7 linked regions of the Homo sapiens genome follow. The protein of the gene in region 1 interacts with the protein of each later gene in a biochemical or structural test. Each region holds a gene or a part of one and is shown in the gene's direction. Other genes may lie near its edges. The genes, in order: CDC42, CNBP, OLA1, CDC42EP5, EIF2AK2, PICALM and TRIP10.

Region 1 (3,500 bases):
GAATGCCTGAACTCAAGCTATTTGCTCCTGTTGGCCTCTGAAAGTGCTGGGATATAGGCATGAGCTGCTGTGCCGCTGACAGGCTTTCTTGGAAGTAAAAGACTAGTTGTGCTTTTATTTATAGATGTATTTTAAATGCACTTCTCTATTGTTTTAGAGTTTTTTTTTTTTTTTTTTTGAGAGGATGAGAAACAATGAGCACCTTAGGCTACAGGGCTTCCTTTGAAGGGGAGAGAGGGTTAAATATTGTGTTAACATATCTTCCATGAAAATATCTCTCTGTATTAAAAGGCTTCATTCTGGAATTTTATGGTAATGCCTTATTCAGTGTTCTCTTCCACATAGATTTCCTCATTAGATTGTAAGTTCTGTGAGGGCAGGGCTTTGGCCTGGCATGGTCACCCCATTGCTAATGCCTAGAATACTGCCATACATACAGTAGGTTTTAAGAAATATTTTTTAAGTGAATGAATTTGATGATGTCTGAGGGTTAACGTTTTCCCTAATATTCCATGGGCCTTTTTGCTGTGTTTCCTGAGACAGCTTTTGTGCTTGGTCAGCCATATCTTTATTTGGGCTCATTGAAGTAGTGATTACTAATCTACTCTTGCTTGACTTTTTCCATCTGTTTAGGTCAGTATCTTCTGCAGCTGCACTGTCTGGACAATTTACCATCACTTAGAAAATCTGTGATGACTACTAGTTCTCTTACTCTCCTAAAAATTATTCACTTAATGTTTGTTTCCTTATCTTCCTTTATTTCTTTGTTTGCAAATAACTTTTACCGCTTGTTCACTACTGTATCAGATTCCTGGTCATGTTATGCTTTGTGTCTTACTAGTTTCTACTTTTAGTTTCTCATACCTTCAGTCCAAAATATTTTTACTAAAGCAATTTTCATTACTTGCCATTTCAGCTACCTCTGCTGCTGCTGCTGCTATTTTAAGTCCTGAATGTCAAAACTCTTCTGGGACATTGATCTCAAACTGCTTATTCCGTGAAGTGAAACCAGGCTTTCTGCCACCAATGTGGCGTCCCTTTTTGCAATTTTAGAAAAATATTTTTTAAATCAAAGATTTGGCATTAGCCATTATACTAAAGTCCAGAACAATTTCTAATAGAGCAGAAAACTATATTGTTCAGCCATGGTATTCACTAAGCACTGGTGCTCTATCACCTTAAGACAAAGTCTGATTTAGGCTCTGTTACTGTTGTTCTGTAATGCTTTACACTTTAACCTTGCATCCTTTTCTGTAAAATTAAGCCATTGCCATTTGCCATTTCAATTCTGCTGTGTGTTCTTGATTGGTATATTGCTACTATAATGATTAAAAGCATAGACTCTGGAACCAGACTGCCTGGGTTCAGATCCTGGTTCTGCCACTTATTAGGTATGTGCAGTCTAAGTAACGTCTTTGTGACTCAGGTTTACTTCCTCTAAAATAGGGGTAGCAGTAGTGCTTACCTAACAGGGCTGCAGTGTTAGGAAGATTGAATTAATATATATGAAGTGTTTAGGACTGTTCACTGGCACATAGTGAGTGCTGTATAGATTTTTGCTCTTGGCACAACTGTGAGGACCCTTCCCCGCCATCTTTGAGAAGCTGTGTTTCTCTCAAACATAAACATTTTAATAACCATCCTTCTCCCGGACTAATCTGATGAATCCAAAAACATTTCTTTTTTCTTTTTTGAGATGGAGTTTTGCTCTTGTTGCCCAGGCTGGAGTGCAATGGCGCGATCTCGGCTCACCGCAACCTCCGCCTCCTGGATTCAAGTAATTTTCCTGCCTCGGCCTCTTGAGTAGCTGGGATTGCAGGCATGCGTCAGCGCCCCTGGCTAATTTTGTATTTTTCGTAGAGATGGGGTTTCTCTATGTTGGTCAGGCTGGTCTCCAACTCCTGACCTCAGGTGATCCGCCCGTCTCGGCCTCTCAAAGTACTGGGATTACAGGCATAAGCCACTATGTCTAGCCCAAAAACATTTCTAAATGAAGTGGAGATTGCTTTACCTTTTTTTTTTCTTTTTTTTTTGAGACAGAGTCTCGCTCTGTCACCCAGGCTGGAGTGCAGTGGCATGATCTTGGCTCACTGCAACCTCTGCCTCCCGGGTTCAAGTGATTCTCCTGCTTCGGCCTCCTGAGTAGCTGGGATTACAGGTGTCCGCCACCACACCCGGGTAATTTTCGTATTTTTAGTAGAGGTGGGGGGGTTTCACCATGTTGGTCAGGCTGGTCTGTAACTCCTGACCTCACGTGATCTGCCTGCCTCGGCCTCCCAAAGTGCTGGAATTAACAGGCGTGAGCCGCTGCATTCCGGCCTCCTTTACATTTTTATCCGTTACCTTTACCGTTGTCATAGAAGCAAGGGTGTCAGGCCTCAGGTATGCAGTATAGTCTGTGGACCCATCAGCATAAGTGTCACCTGGGAGCTCATTAGAACTATCAGGATTCATCCCAGTCTTACTGACCCAGAATCTTATTTTAATAAGATCCCCACATGATTTTTATGTGTATTAAGGCTTGAAGCACCCTCTTCAGGACTGCTAGAGTGATGTCTCAAATTTCGGAAACAATGTGAATGCTTTATTTCATTTTATTTTCCTATGGAAGCATAACCTGGTTTATTTTAGGCAGTGTACCACAATTTATTGCAAGGATCATAATCTGAAAATGAATCTGAAGCATATTTAGTTTTTAAAGGAATTGTTGCTTCCTGCCTATTACGTAGAATTGCCTCATGTCTGCCCATTATCAGGAACTAATGTGTTATTTAAAGTTTTTTTTTTTTTTGAGATGGAGTTTTGCCCTTGTTGCCCAGGCTGGAGTGCAATGGCATGATCTCCACTCACTGCAACCTCCACCTCCCGGGTTCAAGTGATTCTCCTGCCTCAACCTCCCGAGTAGCTGGGATTACAGGCATGTGCCAGCATGCCTGGCTGATCTTGTATTTTTAGTAGAGATGGGGTTTCTCCATGTTGGGAGTTTCTCCATGCTGGTCAGGCTGGTCTCAAACTCCCGACCTCAGGTGATCCACCCACCTTGGCCTCCCATAGTGCTGGGATTACAGGCGTGAACCACCGCACCCAGCCGAATTACGTATTTTTTAATTTTATTTTTATTTTTTAGAGATAGAGTCTTGCTATGTCACCAGGCTGCAGTGCGTGGTGTGATTATAGCTCACTGTAACCTTGAACTCCTGGGCTTAAAGGATCCTCCAACCTCAGCCTCCCAAGTAGCTGGGATTGCAGGCACGCACCACCACACTTGGCTAATTGTAAATATATATATATATTTTTGTAGAGAATGGGGCCTTTTTATGTTGCCCAGGTTGTTCTTGAACTCCTGGCCTCAAGTGACCTCCCACCTTGGCCTCCCAGAGCTGTGGGATTACAGTTGTGAGCCTCTGCACCGGGCCTTAATTTTTTTTTTTTTTGAGACGGAGTTTTGCTCTTGTTGCCCAGGCTGGAGTGCAATGGCGCAATCTCGGCTCACCGCAACC
Region 2 (3,953 bases), on another chromosome or scaffold:
GCTATGTTGAACGCAACCTCCTAACTGCTTTACAATGATTAAGCACTAATGATTTGAACCCAGGTTTAAAGTCTGACTCTCAACACATGTGCTCTGCCTTCTCACGAACATGATTTCAAAAATCATAGCCCCGGGATTTGGGATTGGTGGCTTATGCCTGTAAACCCAGCGACAGAGCAAGACCCTACTCTTAAAAAAAAAAAAAATTAAAGAAAAAAAGAAAAATAAATCATAGTGTTGAACTGGCAGGTTTCACTGAGACGAAACTTGGGACTCTTCCTTTTTTTTTGTTTCGAATAAAGCCATTCTAGAATGAGACAAAATTCTAAAATATTTTATAGTTAACAGTTTAAATTGGGTTTAATCTTGACAAGACTATCTAGGGCTATATACACAAATCTCTTTTGGAGAAAATACCACAACTAAACTGAAGTCTATTCCTGAATATGACAGACCAGGTCAAATGGTTATCCTTGCCCTCCCGGGGGATGTCACTCATAAACGTGCCAAAAGTCACAGTCTAGGCCCCATTACCTTACATGCTCATGACCTTCCCAGGGAGGCCCCTCGCCCTTACCAGGCACTTTCATCTTGGGAAGACACATCAGTCCTGGCGGAGAAAGCAGCAAGGCCTTTCCCCGGCTCACAAAAATTAATACAAATCTCAGAGGCTGCATCCCACAGCCGTGACCACCGTGACTTGGCATCCCCTTTTCTGCAAACTTAAATGTTATCTAGAAATCGGGCCTGGCTCTGAAAGCCAAGGGCCTGGCAGGAGCCCGAGAAAGGGGAGAAACTTTCTGCGGCCCCAAGCTAATGGCAGTCACTGCACCGAGACCCGTCCCCTGGCATCCCTTTGCTCCAGCTGGCCAAGACAGACCACCAAGGTCAGCCAGATTTCCACCCAGTCTGGCCGGGCCCGGACCCAGCTGGGAATGAACCGAGAAGCACCGGGACCCGGATCCCGGCGTGAAAGGCCGCGCGCGGGGCACGGCGGGAAAAGACGCTGCGCGCAGAAACACCCGCCCCGCGCCGCGCTCTAGTGGGCGGCCCTGCCGCGGGCGGCTCTGATTGGACTGCCGAACCCCGCGCGCTGATTGGCCGCGTGGGCGAGGCGGAGGAGAGCCGTGCGCAGCGGCGTATGTGGGGCCGTGTGCAGACCCGCGTGTGGCGCAGGCAAGGACCCTCAAAATAAACAGCCTCTACCTTGCGAGCCGTCTTCCCCAGGCCTGCGTCCGAGTCTCCGCCGCTGCGGGCCCGCTCCGACGCGGAAGGTGAGGGCTGGGGGAGGGGCCCGGCGCTGACGGAGCCGCAGTGCGGGTCGGGTCTGTGGCGGACAGAGAGGGTAGGGAGCGGCGAGGTGGCGATGGCGGCCGCACTTTGGCCTGCGCCTCTGCTGCGTCAGGCGGGAAGCTCGGCTGCTGCCGCCGCCTCGGACCCGGGTTTCTGGCGCACCGCTGTCGGACGACACTTCTGTCCTTTCTTCGTCCTGGAAAGCTGGGTCGCCGAGCATGCGGGTCTTTCGGCGCCACGGCCGCACCCCAGGCCGCAGGCTTAGGGCAGAGGAGGCCCGCCCGTGCGCCCTTGGGGCCGAGGCCCTGACGCTTCGAGGGTCGCGGAATGAGGGACCGAGGGTGGATTTGGCGGGAACTCACTGGAAGGAGTCCGTGTGGTGGGGAAAGGCTCCCGGCTGCGGATGAAGGGGGGATGGGGTGGGTATAGTCGTGCAGGCCATGTGCTGGGGTCGTGCGCCTGGCGGGCCATGTGCCAAGGGTTTTGGGGGCCTTAGAAAAGGGTTCTTAGGCCGGGCGCGGTGGCTCACGCCTGTAATCCCAGCACTTTGAGAGTCCCAGGCGGGCGGATCACGAGGTCAGGAGTTCGAGACCAGCCTGACCAATATGGTGAAAGTTGGTCTGTACTAAAAATAAAAAATTAGCCGGGCATGGTGGCGGGCGCATGTAGTCCCAGCAGCTCGGGAGGCTGGACAGGAGAATCGCGTGAACCCCGGAGGCCGAGGTTGTGGTGAGCCGAGATCGCGCCACTACACTCCAGCATGGGCAACAGAGAGAGACTCCGTCTTAAAAAAACAAACAAACAAACAAACAAACAACAACAAAGGGTTCCTGAAGAAGCCTTTGTGTTTGGAGTGGCGAGACTGCTGGAAGACTTGGGAGCTTTTAGAGTTTATACTCCCTATCCTTGATAGTTTTCCGATTCTTGAATTTTTATCGTCATTTAAATACTAAGTTGCTTGTGTTACATTACCATTCCAAAAGGGGCTGATGGGGCTCACATTCCAAGAGTTAACACTATTTAAGTTGCTGGGATCCTTTAAAAGCGCCATTACCAGAAAAAACACGAATTTGTCAAACCTCCAAAACCACAGCAGCGGGCGGTAGTCTGCATCATTTCTTGGATTAATGAAACAGATGTAATTACAAACGAGACACGAAATTCAACTAGCTCCCCTCCATCTAGATTTTTCCATATCGTGAGAACCTGTTTTAGAATGGCATAATGGTCCACATTTGGGTTTAGGTGTTGATTTTATTATGGGTAAGGCTTGTGCTTGTTCCCACATGTTAACCATATGGCCTCAGCCACAGGGCACTTCCAAAGGAAGTGACTGTTTCTGGTCTTGGGGGTCTTGTAAAAAGAGAACATTGCTCAGTAATCGTCTGTGATTTTAGCTAGTGTGTTTCAGGCATTATTCAGAAGGACTCAGGTGAGATAAGCCAAAACTGAATTTGTTTTTTGTCTTTCTCAAAGTGAAGGAGGTCTAATGAATATCCCCATCTTGCTTTTAAATTACATTTTTAAAAGTAGATTTTTCCCCCTTTCCTATTGTTTGACCCAATTTTGGAGTGAAACGTAACCAGTTACTATTTCCATTCGAATTTAAATTAGCAATTTTATGTTATTTGTTTGTTCAAGCAGTATAACTGGAGTGTAGAGCTTTGAGGGTTTCAAAAAGATAAGAGATATAGTACTTATCTCCTGGGCTTCCCCCTCCCCCCTCCTAAATAGTTTTAAATGCTTCTAATGAGTTACTCTGGTTAAGGATAATCAAACACCTGTAAACTGCCAGGATCCTAGGTACATGCTGTTTTTAGTTTGTTGAGCCTGATTCTTGTCTACAAGAGTTCTTTGTGTATTGGAATATAAAAGGAATAATTTATTACATTCCCAAGGGCAGAATTAAAGACTTAAGTTTTTCCGATTTCATCTCTTGATAAGTTTTTCTTTAAAAAAATAACAGTTTGTGTTTTTCTGAGGAACCAAAGGTCCTCTTTTTTTTCATATTGGTAACAGGAGAGGTAATGTATTTCAGATGGTGCAGTCTGTAAAATATTTTGAACCAAATCAGTGGAAGACCAGGGGTTTTTCTTTTTTTTTTTCTGAGACGGAGTCTCACTCTGTCGCCCAAGCTGGAGTGCAGTGGCGCGATCTCGGCTCACTGCGACCTCCGCCTCCCGGATTAAGCGATTCTCCTGCCTCAGCCTCCGAAGTAGCTGGGATTACAGGCGCCCGCCGCCACACCCAGCTAGTTTTTGTATTTTAGTACAGACGGGGTTTCACCATGTTGGCCAGGCTGGTCTCGAACTCCTGACCTTGTGATCCGACTCCCTCGGCCTCTCAAAGTGCTAGGATTACAGGCAGGAGCCACCGCGCCTGGCCAGGTTTTTCTTAAACTGGCATTTGAACATCTGGAACAGGCAGGGAGATGTCTTTTTTAAAGTATAAATGTGTTTTGTTACATGATTTATGACAATTCTACTTGTCTTTTTTTTTTTTTTTTTTTTTTTTTTTGAGACAGAGTCTTTCTCTGTCGGCCAGGCTGGAATGCAGTGGCACAGTCTCGGCTCACAGCAGCCTCCATCTCCCGGGCTCAAGCAATTCTCCTGCCTCAGCCTCCCAAGTAGCTGGGATTACAGGCGTGTGCCACCACGCCC
Region 3 (3,500 bases), on another chromosome or scaffold:
AACCGAAAAGTTCAAATGACCAGGAATTTTTATGTATCTCTATAATGTACAGAATTTATTTTGAAAATGAGGGATTTGTTAAAGTTACCAAAACAGCCCAATTTAGTACCCCTACATCTGCATTTCTATATAATGATAGTAAAGAAATATGGAACCTAAGGCAACTTCTGAATGCATTGGGTATTCAATTTTTTTTTCCAGTTAACCAAGCTCAGTTAACTGGAACCTTTTATTGTTCTAATCATCGTTATTTATATATGTATTTATATATATGAACATAAGGAAATAAATTCAATCAACCAATAAGTATTATATCCAAACAAGCCCAAATGTTTTCTTTCATCTGTTTAGAAGTTTTTCCGATAAAGAATATAACATCTTTTAATTTTTTGCTAAAATTAGAATTTTTACTTTATGTAAGAAAAAGAGCACATTGAAACTATACCATATACTGATCATTTATATAAGATAGTCTTATCTGAAAAGCAATCTATTTTTGATTTGTCTTAAATAAAACTGACATCTTTTAGTAAATCTAAGTTGTCTTTTCTTGGCTGTTAAATCTTTTGTGGGAATAATTAAGAGAGCACTGAGTACAAAATGTTTTTATTTCAACTGTCCAAAAACTAGGTTATAATATATAAATTTCTCTAAAAATATTTGAATGTGGCTTTAAGGAATACTGTGCTGTTCAAGAACTTTGATTATAAGTGAATTCTATTTAATTAAAACTTGACTGCAAAAAATTTTTTGAGTGCTTCTAATTTGTAATGTAATTTGTAATGTGAGAAAAAGCAAATGCCAAAATGCTTTTGTGATAAGATTTCTATATCTGAAATAATGGTCCAGTTAATTTAAAATGAAAGAGAAATACTGAAATTCCTTCACTGGTGATCAGCACTTATTGAGGCTCTGAGGTTTTGTAAAAATGTTTGTAGTTACAGAAGTATTTTATACTTTTTATATGATTAAAATTTAATTTCTTCCCCTATTTTTTGTTTGGCTTTCTTTTGTCTGTTTTCTTTCTTTAATTGAAAAAACTAATGGAACCAAATATAAGATGGTACGACTGTTTTTTCTTTCTTTTGTATAATCTTGTTGCGTGTCTCTACATAAGCTGTTCTGGCCACTCATCATAGTAACCAGCTGGGCCATTTCACCTGCTGGAGCCATTAAAGAGGACTCTCTCCCCCTAGATTAATCCCCTCCGACATTAGTTTTTTGCACTGACAACTAGAGCAGGCATTCAGAATTTGCAGGTGGCCAGTGTGACGCACATAATTGCCTACAATTTTAGGCAATGAATAAAAATGGTCTACATTACTTGTCAAAGGTTGTATATGCAGTGCCAAGTGAGATCTATGGGAAGCCTTTTAGGGTTTAAAGAACAGTTAATAGCAAGGCTGCACAGGGCTTTTTTAATCATAATGCATTTGTAATATAGCACTTTGATCTTCTCCTTGTAGGAAATGGTGTTACATTAGCCACTTTTAAACATTTATGAGTGAAATTCAGTTATAGAAGAGTAAAAGTGATTATTCTTAAGCCGAACATGTTAGATTTCATTAAAAGTTTTCAGCTTGCCCCTTCCTTGTTAAAATCTGTGGGAAGTCCTTTGCCTGGAGGGTTTCAAATCAGGATCTAAGGATATAAGGCTTTTTCCTTATTTTTCCTGTTGGTAACAGCAAAATTTGGAAGGAAGGTATACTAAATATTGAGATAATTTATACAAATGGATATTTAAAGAAGAATAACTGATTATGGTAAAGTAAAATACATTGATAAAAATCCAGGAAATTGATTACTAATAATTGTGTTACAATAAATTTTGAGAAATGCATATTTAAAACATATCCATAAATTATCTTTAGTAACAACAACAACAGACACCCAGATGACTCTCAAATGCACTTCTTCTGGAAGAGCTAAATTTGACCTTTCAGACCCCAGAGCCTTTTATTAACACCTGCCTGTAAGGAGAACCTTGCCACACGCAGCTTTTAGATTCAGAACCACAAAACTGATGAGGAAAGGCTTGAAGGGTTCAGTTTGTGTCACTTGCTGTTTGCCGTTTCCATTTCACAGATGATTAATCTTTCTGTGAAGAAAGGCCAGAGAAACAAAGCACATTGGGCTCTTCCTGCAGTTACTCCTTCTGAATGCACACTAGCTTGCTAACTAAAAGGCCTTTAGATTTCCAGCAGAGAGAGATGTTCTGAAAGTGAATGCAGCTGGTTGGAGGTCACCAGTGCAGGGCTCTTGCCATTGTGTAATGGAGGCTTTGGCAGGTTCGGGGGGTGGGGGAGTTGGGGGTATTGGGGGTGCGGCTGCGGGAGAAGTGGGCAGGGAGAAGGTGTTGGCAAAAAATTAATCTAAAATAAAAAGGGATCTGGTCAGTTGATTTAATATTTTGGAGGCTGGATCATCGATAATAGGCTCAATTTTGTCTTGTTTGTTTTTCTTCTTAGGGGAAAAATATAATTTAGTCTTTCTTCAGTATATCCCCTCACTCCATTTTCTAATAGCATGTTTGTCTTCTATATGGCATCACTAGGTAATATTGAAATGGTAGTAACTCTTGTATTAGTCTTTGATGTAATTGAATTGTCTTGACATTTTTCAGGCTGTTACTAATTTTTGCTAATATTGTCCATTTTATACATTAAAAATTTAATGCCACAATGTTTTATTAGTAATTGGTTTTTAAATGAGATATTGAAAATAATTATTTGTGTGACCTAGCCCCCTTTCATTAAAACAATCTATTTTTATTTTGAAAATTTGAAAACTTTTTAATATTTAGTATCTAAATGTTTAGTTATTCATATATATTTACCTTTTTCTCAATCATGTGTAGGATATAATGTGCAAAGTAAAATCCTGGGTTATAGATCAAAAGAAACCTGTTCGCTTCTATCATGATTGGAATGACAAAGAGGTAAGTTGTAAATATCATGCCATCTATTACTGCCTTTGCTTTCATTTGCTAGGGAACAAATTAGAGTTGTTGTTATTTTACACTTACCATTATATCTAAATTTTTATTTCTGTCAGTGATTGCTTATTCCTGGGCTTGTTATTTTTTTCTTTTCCCCCACTCATGATATTTCATAACCACTAATCTTTTGGAAAGAAGAATTATAAAAATGAAAATGCCTACTTGTTTTAAGGAATGTTTACTTTCAAATTCTTCAGTGATTTACTCCATATTTACTAAACTTTTAAAAGGGATTCTTTCTCCATCTCCCACTTTAGATTGAAGTGTTGAATAAACACTTATTTTTGACTTCAAAACCAATGGTCTACTTGGTTAATCTTTCTGAAAAAGACTACATTAGAAAGAAAAACAAATGGTAAGTTTTTCCTCACCAGATATACCCAGATGCATCATCTCTGTACACACACAAACACACACCCACATATATGTACTTAACGGCAATGTTTAATTTTAATATTTTTCTCCTTATTAAAAAGTTTAAAATGGATGAGAAAGCTGTGCT
Region 4 (2,886 bases), on another chromosome or scaffold:
GCGCGATCTCAGCTCACCACAACCTCTGCCTCCCAAGTTCAAGCGATTCTCCTGCCTCAGCCTCTCAAGTAGCTGGGATTACAGGCATGCACCACCACAACCAGCTAATTTTGTATTTTTTTTTTAGTAGAGATGGAGTTTCACCATGTTGGTCAGGCTGGTCTCAAAGTCCTGACCTCAGGTGATCCACCCGCTTCAGCCTCCAAAAGTGCTGGGATTACAGGTGTGAGCCACCATGCCTGGCTAGGGAATTTATATTATTATTTTAGAAAACATAAGACATCATATTGTTAGGTTGTAGTCTCAAGATCAGGTACAGTTGGCCAGGCGTGGTGGCTCATGCCTGTAATCCCAGCACTTCGGGAGGCCGAGGCGGGCAGATCACGAGGTCAGGAGTTCAAGACCAGCCTGACCAACATGGTGAAACCCTGTCTCTACTAAAAATACAAAAATTAGCGTCTCAAAAAAAAAAAAAAAAGATCAGGTACAGTTGCCCCTTGGTAGCAGTGATGGGACTGGTTCTGGGACCCCTATGGATACCCAAATATGCAGATGTTTAAGTCTCTTATATAAATGCCCTAGTATTTGCATATAACCTATGTACATCCTCTCCTACACTTTAAATCATCTCTAGATTACTTATAATGCATAATACAATGTAAATGCTTTGCAAATAATTGTTATATTGTTTGAAACTTGTACTCATTTTTTATTACTGTATTTTTTCCCCAGTATTTTTTATCAGCAGTTGATTGAATCTGCTGATGCGGAACCCACAGATACCAAGGACTGTAATTCAAATCATAAAATGCACCCTAGGCAAAGCCCACCTGGGCCTCTTCCTCGTGTGCGTGGTGGGCTCTAGGCAGGATCTGCTTTGCTTAATGGACAGAGTCAGCCCTGTCTTCAGAACAGGAGCCTGGGAATTTCCATTTTTGACAAGCTGGAGTTTTCTTTTTCTTTTTATTGAGACAGGGTTTCACTCCTGTTGCCCAGGCTGGAGTGCAGTGGCCAATACAGTGACACGATCTCGGCTCCCTGCAACCTCCGCCTCCGGGGTTCAAGCGATTCTCCTACTTTAGCTGGGATTACAGGCATGCGCCACCATGCCCCGCTAATTTTTGCATTTTTTATAGAGATGGGGTTTCACCATGTTGCTCAGGCTGGTCTCGAACTCCTGGCCTCAAGCGATCCGCCCGCCTCGGCCTCCCAAGGTGCTGGGATTACAGGAGTGAGCCACCGCACCCGGGCCAACAAGCTGGAGTTTTCTATCAGTCAAGTCTGGGAAGCACTCTGAAGGGTTTGTGAAATATTTGTTACTTGACCTCTAGGAAGGCTCAAGTATTCGCTCTCAGGAGGATCGGCATAGCATGGTGTTCATAGGCATTCTGGAGTCAGGTTAGATCCAAATGTGAGCTCAGCAGCTGTGCCCATGGGACCTCCTGGAGTCTCATCTTACCCCATCTGTGAAACGGGAGGCCGGGCGCGGTGGCTCACGCCTGTTATCCCAGCATTTTGGGAGACTGAGGCGGGTTGATCACCTGAGGTCAGGAGTTCAAGACCAGCCTGGCCAACATTGTGAAACCCCGTCTCTACAAAAATACAAAAATTGGCTGGGTATGGTGGCGGGTGCCTGTAATCCCAGCTACTCGGGAGACTGAGGAGGAAGAATCGCCTGAACCCGGGAGGCGGAGGTTGCGGTGAGCCGGGATGGCGCCATTGAACTCCAGCATGGGCGAGACTCCGTCTCAAAAACAAAAATCAAAAAACAAAAAACGGGAACCGTCCCCCATCGTCCTTTGAGCAGTCGCGTGGCTGCGAGCCCCGGGCTGGGGCCGCGCTGACCCTCCCGTGCCCCTCGCAGATGCCCGTGCTGAAGCAGCTGGGCCCCGCGCAGCCCAAGAAGCGGCCTGATCGCGGCGCCCTGTCCATCTCCGCGCCGCTCGGCGACTTCCGGCACACGCTGCACGTGGGGCGCGGCGGCGACGCCTTCGGGGACACCTCGTTCCTGAGCCGCCACGGCGGCGGGCCGCCCCCCGAGCCCCGGGCGCCCCCCGCGGGGGCCCCGCGCTCCCCGCCGCCGCCCGCCGTCCCGCAGTCCGCAGCGCCCTCGCCTGCCGACCCGCTGCTGTCCTTCCACCTGGATCTGGGGCCCTCCATGCTGGACGCGGTGCTGGGCGTCATGGACGCGGCGCGCCCGGAGGCGGCTGCCGCCAAGCCCGACGCGGAACCCCGCCCCGGGACGCAGCCCCCCCAGGCCCGCTGCCGCCCCAACGCGGACCTCGAGCTGAACGACGTCATCGGCCTCTAGGTTCCCTCATTCCCCGCGCCCTTCCCGCCCGGCACCCCACTTCTGTATACATAAACGGCCAAGGTGTGTGCCCGGGCTCTGACTTTTCACTTTGCACGTGGAAAGGGATGAATGATAGGGTCCTGGCGCCTCTGAGAGCCGGATGTGTCACCCGGAGGCCTGGTCCGGGTCCGATGATTGCCCTGGGGTGGGGGTGCGGCTCCTTTAAGAGAGCCCGAGGGCGTGGCCAGGCGGTGCCCCTTGCAGAGGCGGCGGCTCCCGCAGTCCCATTCGTCAAATACTGTGCGCCACCGCCGGCCGGACGTGGTCCTGGGGCCGGGCCAGACTCAGCCACCGCGGGGCCAGCCGAGGCGGGGCTGCAGAGTGCTGCAGCCCCAGGAGTCTTTCTGGCCCTGAACGCCTCAGGTGGACTCCGACCCGGCGGAGCCGCCGTTTACTCTGGGAGCGGCTGCAGAGGGAAGTGTCTGAGAACACTTTTAGAGCAGTAGGGGCCTGGTCTCCGTGGGGGAAGGGTCCGCAGGCATCTTGGTTCTTTAAGGCCCCCGAGGGATGGGGCCGAACATGCAAATGATTTG
Region 5 (3,500 bases), on another chromosome or scaffold:
ACCAGATAGAACCTATCATTACCCACAAAATAGGTGATCTTTGAGATGTTCTAGTCTTACCTTCTTATTTTATAGATGAGGAAACTAAGATCCAGAGATGTGAAGTGATTTTGTCTAAGATAAAAGCTAGATGGTAATTGTTCTCTGGTTGTCTGTTATTGTATAAGGCACTGCTCCAAAATGCAGTGCTTAAAAACAGCAATTTATTGTTGTCTCTAATGGTTCCATGGGTTGATTGTGCTCATCTGGACAATTCTCACTTGGGGTCTCAGAGGGATTTGCAGTCAGTAGTCATCTGAAACCTTGACTACAGCCTATCTTAGGCTGGATATCCAAGCTGGCTAGCAGTTGACACCGGCTGTGGGCTGGAAGTTCAGCTGGGACTGTCAATCAGAATACCTCCACATGGCCTCCCTATGGGGATTGGGCTTCTTACAACTTGGTGGCTGGGTTTCAAGAAGGATTGTCCCCAGAACAAGTCATCCAAAAGATCAGGAGTGAGTGGCAAGGCTTCTTTTGACCTAATCTGAGGAGTTCCAGAACGTCACTACCATCAAGTTATATTGGTTAAACAAGTCACTGAAGCCAGCTTAGATTCAAGGGGAGGCCAAATAGGCCCTACCCCGTAATTTGTCATTCTAGGGGATGAGTTCTAAGAATATTATTTAGGGACTGGGTGTGGTGGCTCACGCCTGTAATCCCAGCACTTTGGGAGGCCGTGGCAGGCGGATCACCTGAGGTCAGGAGTTCGAGACCAGCCTCACCAACATGGAGAAACCCCTCTCTACTGAAAATACAAAATTAGCTGGGTGTGATGGCGCATGCCTGTAATCTCAGCTTCTCGAGAGGCTGAGTCAGAAGAATTGCTTGAACCCGGGAGGCGGAGCTTGTGGTGAGCCCAGATCATGCCATTGCACTCCAGCCTGGGCAACAAAAGCGAAACTCCCTCTCAAAAAAAAATAAAAATAAAAATAATAAAAAGAATACTATTTAGGGAGGCTGAGGTGAGTGGATCACTTGAGCCCAGGAGTTTGAGACTAGCCTGGGGCAACATGGCAAAACTCCACCTCTACAAAAAATACAGTAATTAGGCCGGTGTGGTAGCCACGCCTGTAGTCTCAGCTACTTCAGAAGCTGAGGTGGGAGGACCATTTGAGCCCAGTAGGTGGAGGCTGCAGTGAGCCATGGTCACACCACTGCACTACAGCCTGGGTGACAGAGTGAGACCCTATCTCCAAAAAAAAAAAAAGAATGTTATTCAAATTATGGATTTATATCCAAGAAGATATAAATCACAGTGTCATTCATTAACAGTAAAAAGTTAGAACAAACAAAATATCCAGCAGTAAAGAAATGAGTATATATATTTTGTTCTGTCCCCTGATCGATGGCTGTTTTGCAGCCATTAAAAATGACTGGCTGGGCCAGGCATGGTGGCTCACGCCTGTAATCCCAGCACTTTGGGAGGCCAAGACAGGCAGATCACGAGGTCAAGAGACTGAGGCCATCTGGCCAACATGGTGAAACTCTGTCTCTACTAAAAATACAAAAATTAGCTGGGCATGGCAGCGTACGCCTGTAGTCCCAGCTACTTGGGAGGCTGAGGCAGGAGAATCGCTTGAACCCAGGAGGCGGAGGTTGCAGTGAGCCAAGATCGCGCCATTGCACTCCAGCCTGGGCGACAAAGCAAGACTCTTCTCAAAAAAAATGACTGGCTGGGTGCAGTGGCTCAGGCCTGTAATCCTACCACTTTGAGAGGCCAAGGCTGGTGGATCACTTGAGGTCAGGAGTGCGAGACCAACCTGGGCAACATGGAGAAACCCTGTCTCTACAAAAAATATAAAAACTAGCCAAGTGTGGTGGTGTGTGCCTGTGGTCCTAGCTACTAGGGAGGCTGAGGTAGGAGGATCGCTTGAGCCCTAGGGGTGGAGGTTGCAGTGAGCCAACATTGCCACTGCACTCCAGCCTGGGTGACAGAGTGAGACCCTGTCTCAAAAAAAAAAGGAAGAATCTAAAATAACATTATTTTAGGATTGTCAAAGTATCAGTAATTTTTTTTATTTTTGCAAATTTGTGTCATATACTTTAAAACTTCTTGCATTAAAAAATAAAATTGTAAAATGATTATTCTTCCTCATCTTTGAAATCTCCAATTTATTTACTGCACTTAGCATGGAATTTTCTTAGGTCTTGGCAACACATCCCTGTAAAGCCTTCCACCATTTCACCTTCTCTGCATAAGTTATCCTCTTTGTGTATATTTGCCACACATTGAAAATCCTGAATTAGGTACTTCACACTGCCTGGGTTACCTAGCCTTGCTGCCTAAATGTGGTTTGCTTGTGAAATACAAAGATTTTAACACAAATCTAAGCAAAACATAATGTATGATTTAGCTATGAAAAATTGCACTGGCTGGGTCCATTGGCTCATGCTTGCAATCCCAGCACTTTGGGAGGCTGAGGCAGGTGGATTGCTAGATCCCAGGAGTTTGAGACCAGCATGGGCAGCGTGGCAAAACCCCATCTCTACAGAAAATAGAAAAAATTAGATGGGTGTGGTGGTGTGCTCCTGTGGTCCCAGCTACTCAGGAGACTGAGGTGGGAGAATTGTTTGAGGCTAGAAGGTTGAGGCTGCAATGAGCCAAGATTGTGCCACTGCACTCCAACCTGGGTGACAGAGCAAGACTCTGTCTCAATAAAATAAATAAATTAATTAAAATGACATCACTGGCATTTCAAGAGTACTACAGATGATTTTTAAATTGTCTGATGCTTGGCATTAAGTCGCTGCCTTTTATTTATTTATTTTTTGAGACAGAGTCTTGCTCTTTTGCCCAGGCTGGAGTGCAGTGGTGCAATCTTGGCTCACTGCAACCTCCGCCTCCTGGATTCAAGCGATTCTCCTGCCTCAGCCTCCCAAGTAGCTGGGATTACAGACATGCGCCACTGTGCCCAGCTAAATTTTTTGTATTTTTAGTAGAGATGGGGTTTCACCATGTTGGTCAGGCTGGTCTTGAACTCCTGACCTCGTGATCCGCCCACCTTCGCCTCCCAAAGTGCTGGGATTACAGGCCTGAGCCACCGCGCCCGGCCACTGCCTTTTATTTTATCTTGAGAGTGAGAACTGCTATGTTTTTTTTCAGTATGTTCACTTTTTCCTTTTGAATGTCCTGGCTTCCATTCTAAAACTATGTGAGAACCACAGCAATGGTTTAATAAGGGAATGTAGACAGTTGTCTATTACATGAGGTGTTTTGTGGTTGTTATGAGGGATGTACACTGACACTGCCATGTTCCCTGTTCCTTTTAACTAGGAAGGCGGAGCGTGAAGTAAAAGCATTGGCAAAACTTGATCATGTAAATATTGTTCACTACAATGGCTGTTGGGATGGATTTGATTATGATCCTGAGACCAGTGATGATTCTCTTGAGAGCAGTGATTATGATCCTGAGAACAGCAAAAATAGTTCAAGGTAACTAAAAATAAATTCTCATAGC
Region 6 (3,500 bases), on another chromosome or scaffold:
CTCCTAAAGATGCTAATGCATTGTTTTATGTGGTGCTTTGTAGTTATAAGATACATTTTTTTTTTCTTCCCCCGAGGCAGAGTCTCACTCTATTGCCCAGGCTGGAGTGCAGTGGCACAATCTCAACTCACTTGCAACTTCCACCTCCTGGGTTCAAGCGATTCTCCCACCTCAGCCTCCCAAGGGTGGGACTACAGATGCATGCCACCACGGCCGGCTAATTTTTGTATTTTTAGTAGAGACAGGGTTTCACCATGTTGAGCAGGCTGGTCTCGAACCCCTGAACTCAAGTGATCTGCACACCTCAGCCTCCCAAAGTGCTGGGATTACAGGCATGAACCACCGTGCCAGGCCTATAATTGCAAGATACTTTCGTATTAATTTGCTCAATCCTCACAATAGCCCTGTGAAGTATGTAGTAGCAATGCTGGGACTCAAACCTAGAATATCTGACATCAAATTGCATCATCTCTGCCTAATGCCAGTTCATGGGGTTGATTATTGATATTTTATATTTTAATCACTTTATTATGTTTTAAGCTAATTCCTCAGACTAAGACCATTTAACCTAGCAAATTGAAAGTAACAGAAATCATTTCATATCAGTCTGGTAACATGATTTTTGTATTGGGTTAAGAAATTACTTGAGTTATTCTCATGTTTTCTTATGAACCTTTTTTTAAAACAGCATGAAGAAAGAATTTGTATAGTGAGAACCTTCCTTTGGTTCTTTTTAGACTTTCTGGTTGTTTCAGAACTTTTGATCTTTCTTTTAGTAATAAAATTTAAATAATTTCCAAAGGGAAATGCCGTTATTGGATTTTAGTACTCATTTTTAATCCTAGATTTGTACTTTGAATTTTCTAGTAAGATTTTCGAAGTAGCAGTCAAAACAATAAGTCTCATTTATTTGAGAGAATAACGAAAAAAAGAGCCACGTAGTTCAGGTGCACCAATTTACCTGAAATGTTTATCATAAAATTTATTGGTTTTCTTGCATTTCTGTCACAACTATGTTATTCTTCCTTTGTCTTCTGAATTGTACCTTTTTATTGGCTTATTTATAATACTAATATTACATAAAATTTAAAAGGTAGTTTTTACCACTTTACGTGCTTAAGAGTAGAAACTAATGATGTTTGGTGTGTGGTAAAAGGAAAATTAATAAAGCTCAAGGTAGTTCTTCAGGTTAGAATTCTTTACCACTTGTTTTACTTAGCCTAGAGTTAACATTTGGAAAGTTAATGTTGAGGTTTATAGTGTGGATACGTTTTTGATAAAAGGGAAAGGAGGTGCCTTGCCAGTGAAAAATGATACATTGTACATGTATATTAAAAAGGAAATTCTGGTTTGGCAAAAGGGCAGCACATAGAAAGATGCCAAATGGCCTGATGACTAGATTGAAACCAGTCTTCTTTTGAAGGAACCTGAAGTCCTCTGGGGATGTTGTTATAGGTGAAACATACCTAGACTTACGTTACGTGTTACTGGTATGCATGTTTTGGTGTTCCTGTGGCACTGCCGAAACGTAGGCTGTAAATTAGCAGAGGGTTTTCCCTGTGATAAACTCAACACTTTTTCCCATCAGGGATTTTGTGGGATTATGTGGGCTCTTTCCCAATTGCACTGGTTTCCTCTCTTGGGGCTTGGAAGAGGCAATGTGCCCCACTCTGTTGTGAACCCTTTCCAAAGTCAAACACTTACTCTGAAAGCAGTGAGTGTATATTAAGTCAAGATTTTTCTAATTGCTTTAATCCTGTAGATCACTAGGTAGAATATTTCATCTGAAGTACTGGATTTGAATCCAGAAGTTAAGTTTATAATTATAGTGCCTATCCATGGCAAGGTTGCCAGACCATTTCATGACCTGGGTGTAATGTGAAGTGTTTAGCAAAAAGCCAAATTATCTCTGTTCAATTATCCTAGGGCAACTACACTTTCCAATGCAGTGTCTTCCCTGGCAAGCACTGGTCTATCTCTGACCAAAGTGGATGAAAGGGAAAAGCAGGCAGCATTAGAGGAAGAACAGGCACGTTTGAAAGCTTTAAAGGTAAGTTTGTGCATTCTCCTTATTTCGAAAAATGAGTACAGGTGTTCATTAGGTAAATGGGGCCTCTGCACAGACTTAGAGTCTTAAATGTATAGCTACCTAATGGGCTGAAACTCAGTCTAACTTTTCGTCCTGACATAGAATTAGGTAAAACAGAATATCTGCTATCAGAACAAATTAGAAAATGCTTTTTTCAGAGGCTGTACAAAGAAATCTGGTTTCTGGAATCCTTATGGTAGTTCCCTTTCTTAACAGGAACAGCGCCTAAAAGAACTTGCAAAGAAACCTCATACCTCTTTAACAACTGCAGCCTCTCCTGTATCCACCTCAGCAGGAGGGATAATGACTGCACCAGCCATTGACATATTTTCTACCCCTAGTTCTTCTAACAGGTAGGAGTAGAAGTTAAGGTTACCTTTGAATATGTAGGTTCAAAGACTTCTAATAGAAATTTTGCAGAACTTTTCAGGTTTACTTTTATTTATGCTTTTATAATCTATTCACACAAAGAGGTGGCGATAAATGGTGATATTGGTATAATACCTAAAGATAAAGTGATGAGTTTATATTTTACGTATTTACGAAATGGAAGATAGTTAAATCACTGATTTATACTAATAGGAATATAGCTGTTATCTCTGGGCCAACTTTTCATTGTGTAAAAATTATGATTAAACACATTTATGAGGCATCTAATGGTTCAAGACCCTTTATAGCTCTTTGACATATGGATATGATATATATTTCAAAATACCATTTCATTAGATATTAAACGTCTGTCATATCTGTTTCCTGGTTTTAAACTCTGTAATCTGGAACACAGTGACAGAGTTTAGTTGCCAGGTTTCTTGGTATTGAAGCCTACCAGACTAACTTTAATAATCTTGTTGTCTAATTTAAGCTACTTAACATGGAAATATAATATTGCCAGGTAAAGTAAAACAATTGGCATTTTCTGAACCTCAGAGTGGCTTAAAGTAGTTTTAAAAGTCAGATTCTGGTTTGAATCCTGGCTCTGTTAGTTCTTAACTTTTTTTGAGAAACCTTGTTTTCAGATGAGACTGTGGTTCTCAACTTTAACATCAGAAGCATTTGGAGAGTTTATTAAACTACAGATATCTGAGTCCCAATCCTAGAGTTTTGATTCAGTAGGTGGGGCCTGGGGCCCAAGAATTTTTGTTTTTAAGATGCTCCCAGGTGACTAGGTTTTAGCACAGTGCATTATTAGCACATGTTAAATGTTCCATAGAGAGTGGTGAGTTTTTTCCTTTCACTTTGTTGTTGCTGTTTATTAACTCACCCTTAAAAGCTCATCTGCCTGCCTACTGACTCCTAATAGCTGAGCCTAATAGCTCAGTGTAAGTTTTACTACGTGAACTGCTTGCTGTATGCATGCTCAGTTGCTACCTGCTCCCTGAAATCTTAGTAGGTGTTTGTTGAATTTAGTTCT
Region 7 (3,500 bases), on another chromosome or scaffold:
CCTGAGGTGGGAGGATCACTTGAGCCCAGGAGTTTGAGGCTGCAGTGAGACGCAATCATGCCGCTGCACTGCAGCCTGGGTGACAGCAAGACCCTGTCTCAAAAAAAAAAAAAAAAAAAATCTACTCAAGGGTTGGGGTTAAGGAATATGGACCAGAATTTGTCATCGCTTCAGGGATTACATTCTTGGGGCTTAACCCTTTTCCACCTGGAGGTGCGTCCTGGGGCATCAGCCTGCTCGGGAGGAGGGGCCTGACTCCCTGTTCCCCGATTCTCATCCAACCCCAGATTCAGCCAGCAACAGTCCTTCGTACAGATTCTCCAGGAGGTGAATGACTTTGCAGGCCAGCGGGAGCTGGTGGCTGAGAACCTCAGTGTCCGTGTATGTCTTGAGCTGACCAAGTACTCACAAGAGATGAAACAGGAGAGGAAGATGGTGAGGAGCCCCCCGATTCAGGTTTTACAAAGGGCTTCTGCTGGAACCCTGGCGAGCCTTATCACTCTTCTTTCTGTAGCACTTCCAAGAAGGGCGGCGGGCCCAGCAGCAGCTGGAAAATGGCTTTAAACAGCTGGAGAATGTGAGTTTGCAGAGGTAGCAGTGACTGTGGCCCGGAGGCATGGGGGCAGGGTTGCGGATCCGGAGTCAGGGAGCTGCCCTCTTTGTCAGACCTGGACCTTCCCTCCCCCATAGGCTTCCAGTACTCCCTTGACCCCTACTTACTGGATGACATCCCAATAATCCCTGAAACCTTGGTTTCCCACCCTGCTGTCTTTGGGATGGTGGCTCCCTCACTCCGGTTCTGTCCCCTACACAGAGTAAGCGTAAATTTGAGCGGGACTGCCGGGAGGCAGAGAAGGCAGCCCAGACTGCTGAACGGCTAGACCAGGATATCAACGCCACCAAGGCTGATGTGGAGAAGGTGTGTGTGGCGGGGGCGGGGGGGGGGTGCGGGGTCTGGGACAAGCTTGGGGAGTCCGAGTGGGACGTGATCGGAACCTGGCAGTACCTTCCACCTCTGCATTCTTCAGGCCAAGCAGCAAGCCCACCTTCGGAGTCACATGGCCGAAGAAAGCAAAAACGAATATGCGGCTCAACTGCAGCGCTTCAACCGAGACCAAGCCCACTTCTATTTTTCACAGATGCCCCAGATATTCGATGTGAGTGCTCCCAGTTCTCAGACCTACCTTCCCGAAAGCCTCCAAATGTTAGCCAACTCCTACGCATTCATCAAAACCCCAGCTGCAATGTCCCAGTCCCTAGATTGAAAGGGAATCAGAAACCTATAGTAACAGTGAGCTGTGCTTTTAGTCAGCTGTTCTTCCTGCTGGGCATGCCTTTTACTTGTTTGTTTATTTACTTCTATAGAGAGATGGGGCCTGGCTCTGTCACCCGGGCAGGAGTGCAGTGGCATAATCACAGCTCACTGCAGCCTGGAACCCCTGTGCTCAAGTGACCTTTCTTTCTTTTTGAAATTCCTACTTATTCTTCTAAGCTCCACCTCTAACAACCCCTCTGAAAGGTCTCGAATTTCCCCTCTCCTGTTTCAATCTAGCGCTCCACTCTCTGTCCCATCCGTGGCCCTGGGAGTATCAGGGCTGGTTCTGCTTTTTCTTCAAATCCCTGTTCCCTTGTCTCCTCCTTTGAGAAGCCTTTGCTGACCCCCTAGGCACGCGTCCCCCTCTGAGATCCCCCTGGCCCTGTGTCTCTTCCCCAACCACAGTGGGCTGGAGTCTCTCTTCCCGACTCTGTCTTCCCCTCCAGACTGGCTTGGGGCTGGGGCCAGCGTGGAGCGCGATCATATTTGCAGAGTGAATCACTGTGCTTCTAGTCCCTCTGTTAGCACCCCTGAGCCACCCTTGTCCCTGTCCTTACAGAAGCTCCAAGACATGGATGAACGCAGGGCCACCCGCCTGGGTGCCGGGTATGGGCTCCTGTCGGAGGCCGAGCTGGAGGTGGTGCCCATAATAGCCAAGTGCTTGGAGGGCATGAAGGTGGCTGCAAATGCTGTGGATCCCAAGAACGTGGGTGCCTGGTCTGGGTCCACTGGGCTACGGGAAGGGCAGAGGGAGGTACCCATAGGCTAGGCACTCGACTGCTCATCCACTGTCCCCCTCCCCCAGGACTCCCACGTCCTTATAGAGCTGCACAAGTCAGGTTTTGCCCGCCCGGGCGACGTGGAATTCGAGGACTTCAGCCAGCCCATGAACCGTGCACCCTCCGACAGCAGTCTGGGCACCCCCTCGGATGGACGGCCTGAACTCCGAGGCCCGGGTCGCAGCCGCACCAAGCGCTGGCCTTTTGGCAAGAAGAACAAGGTGGGGGCCGGGACCCTTGGGATGGTGGGGGAGAAGGACAGTGAAGTGGGGACAGTGGGGCCCCTATTGAGTCAGCCCCAGCCGCCTGAACGCCGAGTCTCGGGCAGGAATTTTCCTCTTGGCTGCCAGCCCGGACTGGAGGGAAGGAAGGCGGCCGATTGGCCTGGGAGTCCCCCGAGGCGAAGGCGGGGGCAGGGTGGGGAGGTGGGGAGGTCCGTGGCGTTTGTCTGCTGCTTCTCGGGATGCTGGGAGAAAACCTGCTGGTGGAATTCAGGGCTGGCCTGAGGGCTGGTGACACCATCCCTGGGGACTCCCCGAGTTTCTCTCTCCATCCTGCTGATGGGACTCTGGGAGCCGCCCTGCATGTCTTGCTTTCTTGGGTTTTTGGATTTTAATATACCTTAGCACCCTTGGTTTATACCTTTGATTTATACTTTGGGTCCCTCTTCACTTACACTCTCATACCTCTCCTTGACTTAACACCTGTGATCCCCGAGCTTAAACTTCTGATGCCCCTAACCCCTCTCATTTTCCTGCCTTCCACTCCCTCTCGGCTTGTGGTTTTATTTTTGTTTATTTATTTTTGTCCTCTGTGGCCTCTTACCTGTCTGAGACCTTGATTCCTGCATGCGTCTTCTAGACTGTCAGCCCAGAAAGCTAAGTGGACAGAGAGACATGGGCCTCCCTGCCTCCTGGACCCATGCTTGCTCCCGGACATAACATTCCAGAGACCTAGGAGATACCGGGGGAGTGAGAGTTCTGGCTTTCGGGCTTACAGTTCAACATCCTCCCCGCCACCTTCCAGATTTTTTTGTGTCGCTCCTGCATGCGTTTTCTCTGTGTGGTTGTGCATCTTGAGTTGTGGTTTTCTTACCGTTTTTTTTCTTTCTCCATTTTGTTTTTCCTTTTTCCTTTTTTTGCGTCCATCCGTCCATCCGTGCGTCCATCCCTCCGTCCATTCGTCCTCACTCTCTACATCCTCCTATGCCCCCCCACCCCTTCAACCTATCCCCCTCCCCGGCCCCCGCCGGTAGCCTCGCCCCCCACCCCTCTCCCCCCTGGGGGGCCCCGTACCCTCGGCATTGCCTAACGGACCCCCGTCCCCCCGCTCCGGCCGTGACCCCTTGGCCATACTGAGCGAGATCAGTAAGTCGGTCAAACCGAGGCTAGCATCCTTCCGCAGCC

What was found.
Region 2: the proteins of CDC42 (region 1) and CNBP form a complex in vitro, tested with the Homo sapiens proteins (one large-scale study listed by BioGRID).
Region 3: the proteins of CDC42 (region 1) and OLA1 form a complex in vitro, tested with the Homo sapiens proteins (one large-scale study listed by BioGRID).
Region 4: the proteins of CDC42 (region 1) and CDC42EP5 form a complex in vitro, tested with the Homo sapiens proteins (2 studies listed by BioGRID).
Region 5: the proteins of CDC42 (region 1) and EIF2AK2 form a complex in vitro, tested with the Homo sapiens proteins (2 studies listed by BioGRID and IntAct).
Region 6: the proteins of CDC42 (region 1) and PICALM form a complex in vitro, tested with the Homo sapiens proteins (one large-scale study listed by BioGRID).
Region 7: the proteins of CDC42 (region 1) and TRIP10 form a complex in vitro, tested with the Homo sapiens proteins (3 studies listed by BioGRID and IntAct).

What each region holds. Positions count from the first base shown.
Region 1 is NC_000001.11:22,055,709-22,059,208, forward strand, and holds part of CDC42 (cell division control protein 42 homolog isoform 1 precursor), read left to right. Parts: intron 1-3,500. UniProt on the Homo sapiens protein: Plasma membrane-associated small GTPase which cycles between an active GTP-bound and an inactive GDP-bound state. In active state binds to a variety of effector proteins to regulate cellular responses. Involved in epithelial cell polarization processes.
Region 2 is NC_000003.12:129,181,097-129,185,049, reverse strand, and holds the start of CNBP (CCHC-type zinc finger nucleic acid binding protein), read left to right. Parts: upstream 1-1,153; 5' UTR 1,154-1,274; intron 1,275-3,953. UniProt on the Homo sapiens protein: Single-stranded DNA-binding protein that preferentially binds to the sterol regulatory element (SRE) sequence 5'-GTGCGGTG-3', and thereby mediates transcriptional repression. Has a role as transactivator of the Myc promoter.
Region 3 is NC_000002.12:174,123,033-174,126,532, reverse strand, and holds part of OLA1 (obg-like ATPase 1), read left to right. Parts: intron 1-2,857; coding exon 2,858-2,938; intron 2,939-3,255; coding exon 3,256-3,353; intron 3,354-3,500. UniProt on the Homo sapiens protein: Hydrolyzes ATP, and can also hydrolyze GTP with lower efficiency. Has lower affinity for GTP.
Region 4 is NC_000019.10:54,464,526-54,467,411, reverse strand, and holds the end of CDC42EP5 (cdc42 effector protein 5), read left to right. Parts: intron 1-1,864; coding exon 1,865-2,311; 3' UTR 2,312-2,386; downstream 2,387-2,886. UniProt on the Homo sapiens protein: Probably involved in the organization of the actin cytoskeleton. May act downstream of CDC42 to induce actin filament assembly leading to cell shape changes. Induces pseudopodia formation in fibroblasts. Inhibits MAPK8 independently of CDC42 binding.
Region 5 is NC_000002.12:37,122,481-37,125,980, reverse strand, and holds part of EIF2AK2 (interferon-induced, double-stranded RNA-activated protein kinase), read left to right. Parts: intron 1-3,316; coding exon 3,317-3,475; intron 3,476-3,500.
Region 6 is NC_000011.10:85,999,585-86,003,084, reverse strand, and holds part of PICALM (phosphatidylinositol-binding clathrin assembly protein), read left to right. Parts: intron 1-1,926; coding exon 1,927-2,050; intron 2,051-2,305; coding exon 2,306-2,442; intron 2,443-3,500. UniProt on the Homo sapiens protein: Cytoplasmic adapter protein that plays a critical role in clathrin-mediated endocytosis which is important in processes such as internalization of cell receptors, synaptic transmission or removal of apoptotic cells.
Region 7 is NC_000019.10:6,742,680-6,746,179, forward strand, and holds part of TRIP10 (cdc42-interacting protein 4), read left to right. Parts: intron 1-287; coding exon 288-435; intron 436-514; coding exon 515-577; intron 578-814; coding exon 815-919; intron 920-1,028; coding exon 1,029-1,157; intron 1,158-1,874; coding exon 1,875-2,021; intron 2,022-2,120; coding exon 2,121-2,315; intron 2,316-2,955; coding exon of another isoform or gene 2,956-2,976; exon of another isoform or gene 2,977-3,055; intron 3,056-3,349; coding exon 3,350-3,500. UniProt on the Homo sapiens protein: Required for translocation of GLUT4 to the plasma membrane in response to insulin signaling. Required to coordinate membrane tubulation with reorganization of the actin cytoskeleton during endocytosis.